Linked DNA regions of Homo sapiens: region 2 is linked to region 1. The links come from fine-mapping of genetic effects on gene expression. A gene starts in region 1. The other region holds a variant in brackets. All regions are shown on one strand. Distances are between the middles of the regions.

Region 1 (2,913 bases):
AATGGCTGAAATGCTATTTGAATCCACATCTGTCTAATTCTAAAAGTGTGCTTTCCACCACATCACCGCACCTACAAGGAAAATGCAGCCTCTACCCTCTCCTGAAGAATGTGTAAAGAGGCAATATGGTGTGTTTTGGAAAAAGCATCTTTGCAGAAAGAAAGCATTAGCTTCAGTCATATTAGCATCCTTATCCAGCAGCAGTAGCATTATTTTACATATCAGTTACTCCTCCCCAACAACTCAATGAATTAGATGCCACAATCATCCTCACTTTCAAATGTGGAGACCGAGGCACATCTCTAAGACTGGAGTTCAGGCATTCTGGCTCCAGTCTTAGAGATGGTTAAGGGTTCACACTCTTAACCATTTATTACACCATAGAGCTCACCAGGTTTGAGGGAAACAGGATCAAATCAAAAGAGTCACTCAGGACTCCAGTCCTCACTCAAGGACAAACTGTTCCACCTCGGACAGGGAGAGTTTCCGCATTCTGAGACCCAGCATAACAGGTCCTGACCGGCATCTGGCACTCGGACTCCCAATCATACTGGATCACACTGGCTCGGGATGTGTAAAGTCCAGGGCTTCTCACATTTGATGACACCAAAGCCGCCTAAAAACAAGAGAGAATTAACAACTACCTACGGCGGTCTGATATTTGCCCAAGAGATGCCGCCCCATAAAACTCCTTTACATCTTTATAACGTTTTTATTTTGCGTTCTCCTTCATAACCCACATTTAACTCACCATAGATGTAATGTTTAAAATTAGTTACCAGATAAACTCTTACGCTTCCAAACTTTAAGGTTCCTTCGAAACCTTCTGGTAAAACTGTTGTTCCACGGAAATGGGAACGTAACGGATGAGGCAATCTTCCACAGCCGCACACAGTTGTGTATCCACCGCTAAACGGTCCCAGTCATACATTCAACGACCCACGCGGAGTCAGAAGCTACCACCACACACTGTCAAAATCACGCACACACAGTGACGGCCCCTTGCCCACTCGGTCACTCGCCCACAATCTCTCGCTAGAGAATCACACGCAGATAGCACACCCAGCACCACAGACCCCAGGAAGCAACCCAGGGACTCGAACACACGAACAGCACTCCTCCGCGCACTGCGCAGGCACGCCTGCGTCCGGCTCACCCTGAAACATCGCGAGATCCGGCTTCAAGGCCGGGCTGCTGCCTTTACGCCTAAAGACTATGTTTCCCGGAAGACACTGCGGCGCCGGCCCTATCATGGCGCAGCATCGGTGTGCTTTGTGCGTCTGCGCCATCTTCCGGCTGCGCACGGCGAATCCACCGGTACCGTGGTGGAAGCGCGCCCTGGGCTGCCGGGGGCGCGGCCGCGGTGGCACTTGGACCCGAGGAGGCGGCAGGTGAGAGGTTCCGGAGCTTTCCAGGCGCTCTGGGGTCCAGCAGGAGCTGGTGCCCGGGCCGGTTGGGTCTCAGGCCTGAGAAGAACGCAGACGTCTCGCCTCATCGTCGCTCTGTGGCTTTACCGGCGTGAGACTACATTTCCCGCCGGCCCTCGCGGCGTGCGCTTTCTGGCGCCCCCTTTCTGCTTCCAGCCTCATAGCCCAGGTGCATGGACCCCTTAGGTGGGTGCGCAGGGGTCTCCGACCCCCTGAAATTGCGGATGTTTTGCATTCACTGTTATGCGTGCCTTTTTTTTTTTTTAATCTGAGAGGAAATCTTGTTTCATGAGGTTCTCAGAGAGTTACAAGACCCCAGAAGACTTAGAACCGCTAGTTTAGAAAAACTTATACTTGGGAACATTTTATATGTTCAAATTCTATGTCCAGCAATGGGGAAACACTTGAGTGGATCACAGGCCATCCTTTGTAAATAGGATATCGTGCAGTTAATACAAATAATGCTTATAAAAGTGGTCATAATAAGGAAAAGCTGCCTATTACATCATATTAAGCAACATTCATAATTATTTCACTTACACGTTACTTAGAACCAAATGTTTGTAATGCAGTAGGCACCTTATATACTCCTTTACAGAGTACTTCTTGTTTAACAGTGAGCTCAAGAACTGGTTAAATGACAACACTGCGAATACTTGGGTGTTTTTTCTTCCAATTTTTTTGTTTTGTTTTGTTTTTAGCCTGTGTGTTAGTGAGTTTGACTTCTTTTTGCTGAATGTTCTCAAAGGATTCAGTAGTTAATATCTTTGCTTGTCAGTTTTTGATAGTCATTTTTGATAGTCACTTGGCATCCCATTATATGGCTGTGCCAAAAATGATTCAACCTCTTGGCTACTTGTGGACTTGCCTACTTACGTACTAATTTTCAGTTCTCCTATTTAGCAAATATTATTGGACATGCAGCTTTGTGCACTGCTGTGTCTCTATGGAAGGACACATTTATGTGCTGATAATGGAGCACTGGGCGTGCTGTGTGTAATTTGTCTCTTACTGTTCCTTCCAACTCTATCCCATTTGTTGATGCAAGGCATGCTCCATGAAGTGGCATGCACAAAGCCTCAGTTTGGGCTGTAGAGCTTTTTGTATATTTGGCGGTTGGGAAAAGAGCCAGGTAGACTTTCAAAGGTGTTATATTTGCTGCAGGAGAGAGTTAAATGGCCTAGTCCTGGAAAGGCTTTATTCTAGGCTGGGGCTATGCAAATGATGCAGGCCTTCTATGCTCCCTGGCTTGAGGGAAGCCCTCCTTGTCCTTGAGGTAACATGTGGGTCTCAGTCACTAGAACAGCCCTCAGCATCCCTGTCTTAGACTTGCATTTGCAGCAAAACAGAACCACTGGATGTTTAGGGGAAATGGGAGGGAAAGGACCACTGGTTCCCCTTTGCCTTGCAGCAGCTAAAGCTGGTTTCCTGGGGTTGGGTGAGGATCCCTTTGCCTCCCCCTCCTTCTCATTTTCTTGGTGGGCAG
Region 2 (2,913 bases), 220 kb after region 1:
AAAAATACAAAAATTAGCTGGGCGTGGTGGTGTGCACCTGTAATCCCAGCTACTTGGGAGGCTGAGGCAGAAGAATCGCTTGAACCCAGGAGGTGGAGATTGCAGTGAGCCGAGATCATGCCACTGCATTCCAGCCTGGGTGACAGAGCGAGACTCCATCTCAAAAGTAAAAATAAAATAAAAACAAAGTTTTGCTTTTACCAGAATGTTATACAAACTGGATCCTACAGTGTGCAGCCTTTTCAGTCTGACTTCTTTTACTTAGTGCATGAGATTCATCCACGCTGTGGTGTGTGTCAACAGTTCACTCCTTTTTAGTGCCATTCCTACAAATTTCTGACGAATCCTTTAGGTTTAAGTCCTAGAAGAAAAGCAACTCAGTCAAAAGGTATAACCATTCTGGGATTCTTTTTTTTTTTTTTTTTTTCAGACGGAGTCTTGCTCTGTTCCCTAGGCTGGAGTACAATGGTACAATCTCAGCTCACTGCAACCTCTGCCTCCCAGGTTCAAGCAATTCTCCTGCCTCAGCCTCCTGAGTAGCTGGGATTACAGGCACCTGCCACCATGCCCAGCTAATTTGTTTGTATTTTAGTAGAGATGGGGTTTCACCATGTTGGCCAGGCTGGTCTTGAACTCCTGACCTCAGGTGATGCACCTGCCTCGGCCTCTCAAAATGCTGGGATTACAGGTGTGAGCCACCACGCCCAGCCTCTGGGATTCTTAGTATACACATCCAGATTGCCTTTCGACAATCACATACCAGTTTTCAGTCCCACCAGCACCACAGAAAGATTCCCATTTTACTTGAGAAAGTTACATTTTTTAGGGAAAGTTCATGGGAGGGGCTGGAAAAGACCTAAGTATTGGTCATGTGCTAGAAACACCTAACTGAATTATTGAACAAGAGGGGTTGCATTCTTAGCTTTTCAAAGAGGCATGGGTGGGTGAGGCTGAAAATCCCACTATTGGAAAGATTCAGATGTGGAAGCGGCCACAGGACGGGAATCTGCAGTCAGGAAGAGAAGTGTCAGCGTTCTCTCCCAGGAGCATTTCTGTGCAGAGTCAAGGTGAGTCAGAGTGAAGGGGAGCCAACGCAATGTCCAAAGCTGAGAGCTGCATGTGAAATACATCATCGATGCTGACGCTGCATTCACAGGAGTGGTTCAAGTGGGGGCACGTGGAGAGGAGAGGGCTGACTCATGGCGGGAGCTAACCAGGGCGGAAGGACATCCTGGAGTTTGGCCCATGACAACGGTGGGGAGGAGATGAAATAAGCAGGTGCCTTCGCCTTCCAAAGGTCCCGGACATCCAGTTACAAAAACAAGAGTGCAGAAGCAGCCAGCAGCCTCCCGTGACCTTGAATCAGAAGGAAAGCGGGAAACAGTGTACACCGGAGGCGCCCAGGTGGGAAATGACATGCTCTCCCATGTTGGTGGGCTGAGTTGTGTCTTTCTGGCTTTTGTTTTTTCTTTCTTCTTCTTCTCTTTTTTTTTTTTTCTTGAGACACAGTTTCACTCTGTTGCCCAGGCTGGGAGTGCA[A/G]TGGCTGGATCTCGGCTCACTGCAACACCTGCCTCCCGAGTTCAAGTAATTCTCCTGCCTCGGCCTCCCGAGTAGCTGGGACTACAGGCACCCACCACCACGCCTGGCTAATTGTGTGTGTGTGTGTGTAATAGAGACAGGGTTTTTCACCATGTTAGCCAGGATGGTCTTGATCTCCTGACCTCATGATCCGTCTGCCTCGGCCTCCCAAAGTGCTGGCATTACAGGCATGAGCCACCGCGCCCAGCCTGAGTTGTATCTTTATGGCTTTTGTTTTTTCTTTTTCTTTTTTTTTTTTCTTTTTTTGAGACACAGTTTCACACTGTCGCCCAGGCTGGGAGTGCAGTGGCTCGATCTCGGCTCACTGCAACCCCCACCTCCCAGGTTCAAGCGATTCCTGTGCCTCAGCCTCCCGAGTAGCTGGGATAACAGGTGTGCACCACCACGCCTGGCTAATTTTTGTATTTTTAGTAGAGACAGGCTTTCACCATGGTGACCATGCTGGTCTCAAACTCCTGACCTCAGGTGATCCGCCAGCCTTGGCCTCCCAAAGTGCTGGGATTACAGGTGTGAGCCACTGTGCCCAGCTGGCTTTTGTTTTTTCTTTTTTTTTTTTTTGAGATGGAGTCTCACTCTTTCTCCTAGGCTGGACTGCAGTGGCACGATCTCAACTCACTGCAAGTTCTGCTTCCCGGGTTCACGCCATTCTCCTGCCTCAGCCTCCTGAGTAGCTGGGACTACTGGTGCCCGCCACGGCGCCCGGCTAATTTTTTTTTGTATTTCTAGTAGAGACGGGGTTTCACCGTGTTAGCCAGGATGGTCTTGATTTCCTGACCTCGTGATCCACCTGCCTCGGCCTCCCAAAGTGCTGGGATTACAGGTGTGAGCCACCGTGCCCAGCTGGCTTTTGTTTTTTCTGTAGGTGCACAGATGATATTAGTTAAATTGAAAAGCAGGTAGAATGTTGACAAGAGTGGGAAAAGAGAGTGCATTCTGCCATTGTCTCTGCCTGGAATGTTCTTGCCAGCTACGTGTGGATGACTTCCTATCCTCTTCTCAGGGACATTTATTATGACCACCATTTAAAAATATGTCTATTTACTTATTTATGTATTTGCTTATTTTTTTCTTAAAATTTTTTTAAATTTACAAATACAAATTGAATCTATTTATGGCATACAGCATAATGTTTTGATCTATGTATACACTGTAAAATTATTAAATTGGGCTAATTAACACATCCACCAGCTCGTAGACATCGTTTTGTACTGAAAGCATTTAAAATCTACTCTCATGGGGTGCAGAGGCTCATACCTGTAATCCCAGTACTTTGGGAGGCCGAGGCGTGGGATCACTTGAGGTCAGGAGTTCGGG

What was found.
Region 2: its variant is fine-mapped to the expression of ZNF582-DT in vagina (GTEx, PIP above 0.99).

Annotation. Positions count from the first base shown.
Region 1 is chr19:56,391,920-56,394,832 of GRCh38, reverse strand. It overlaps ZNF582-DT (ZNF582 divergent transcript), which reads right to left and starts at 1,157. Exons shown (of 2, transcript NR_037160.1): 1 at 780-1,157. ZNF582 (zinc finger protein 582) reads left to right here and starts at 1,299. Exons shown (of 5, transcript NM_001320371.4): 1 at 1,299-1,613.
Region 2 is chr19:56,168,743-56,171,655 of GRCh38, reverse strand. No RefSeq gene overlaps it. Among named protein-coding and RNA genes, the nearest start is that of GALP, 5.8 kb to the left of the region's middle. The variant A/G (reference allele first, on the strand shown) is at 1,540.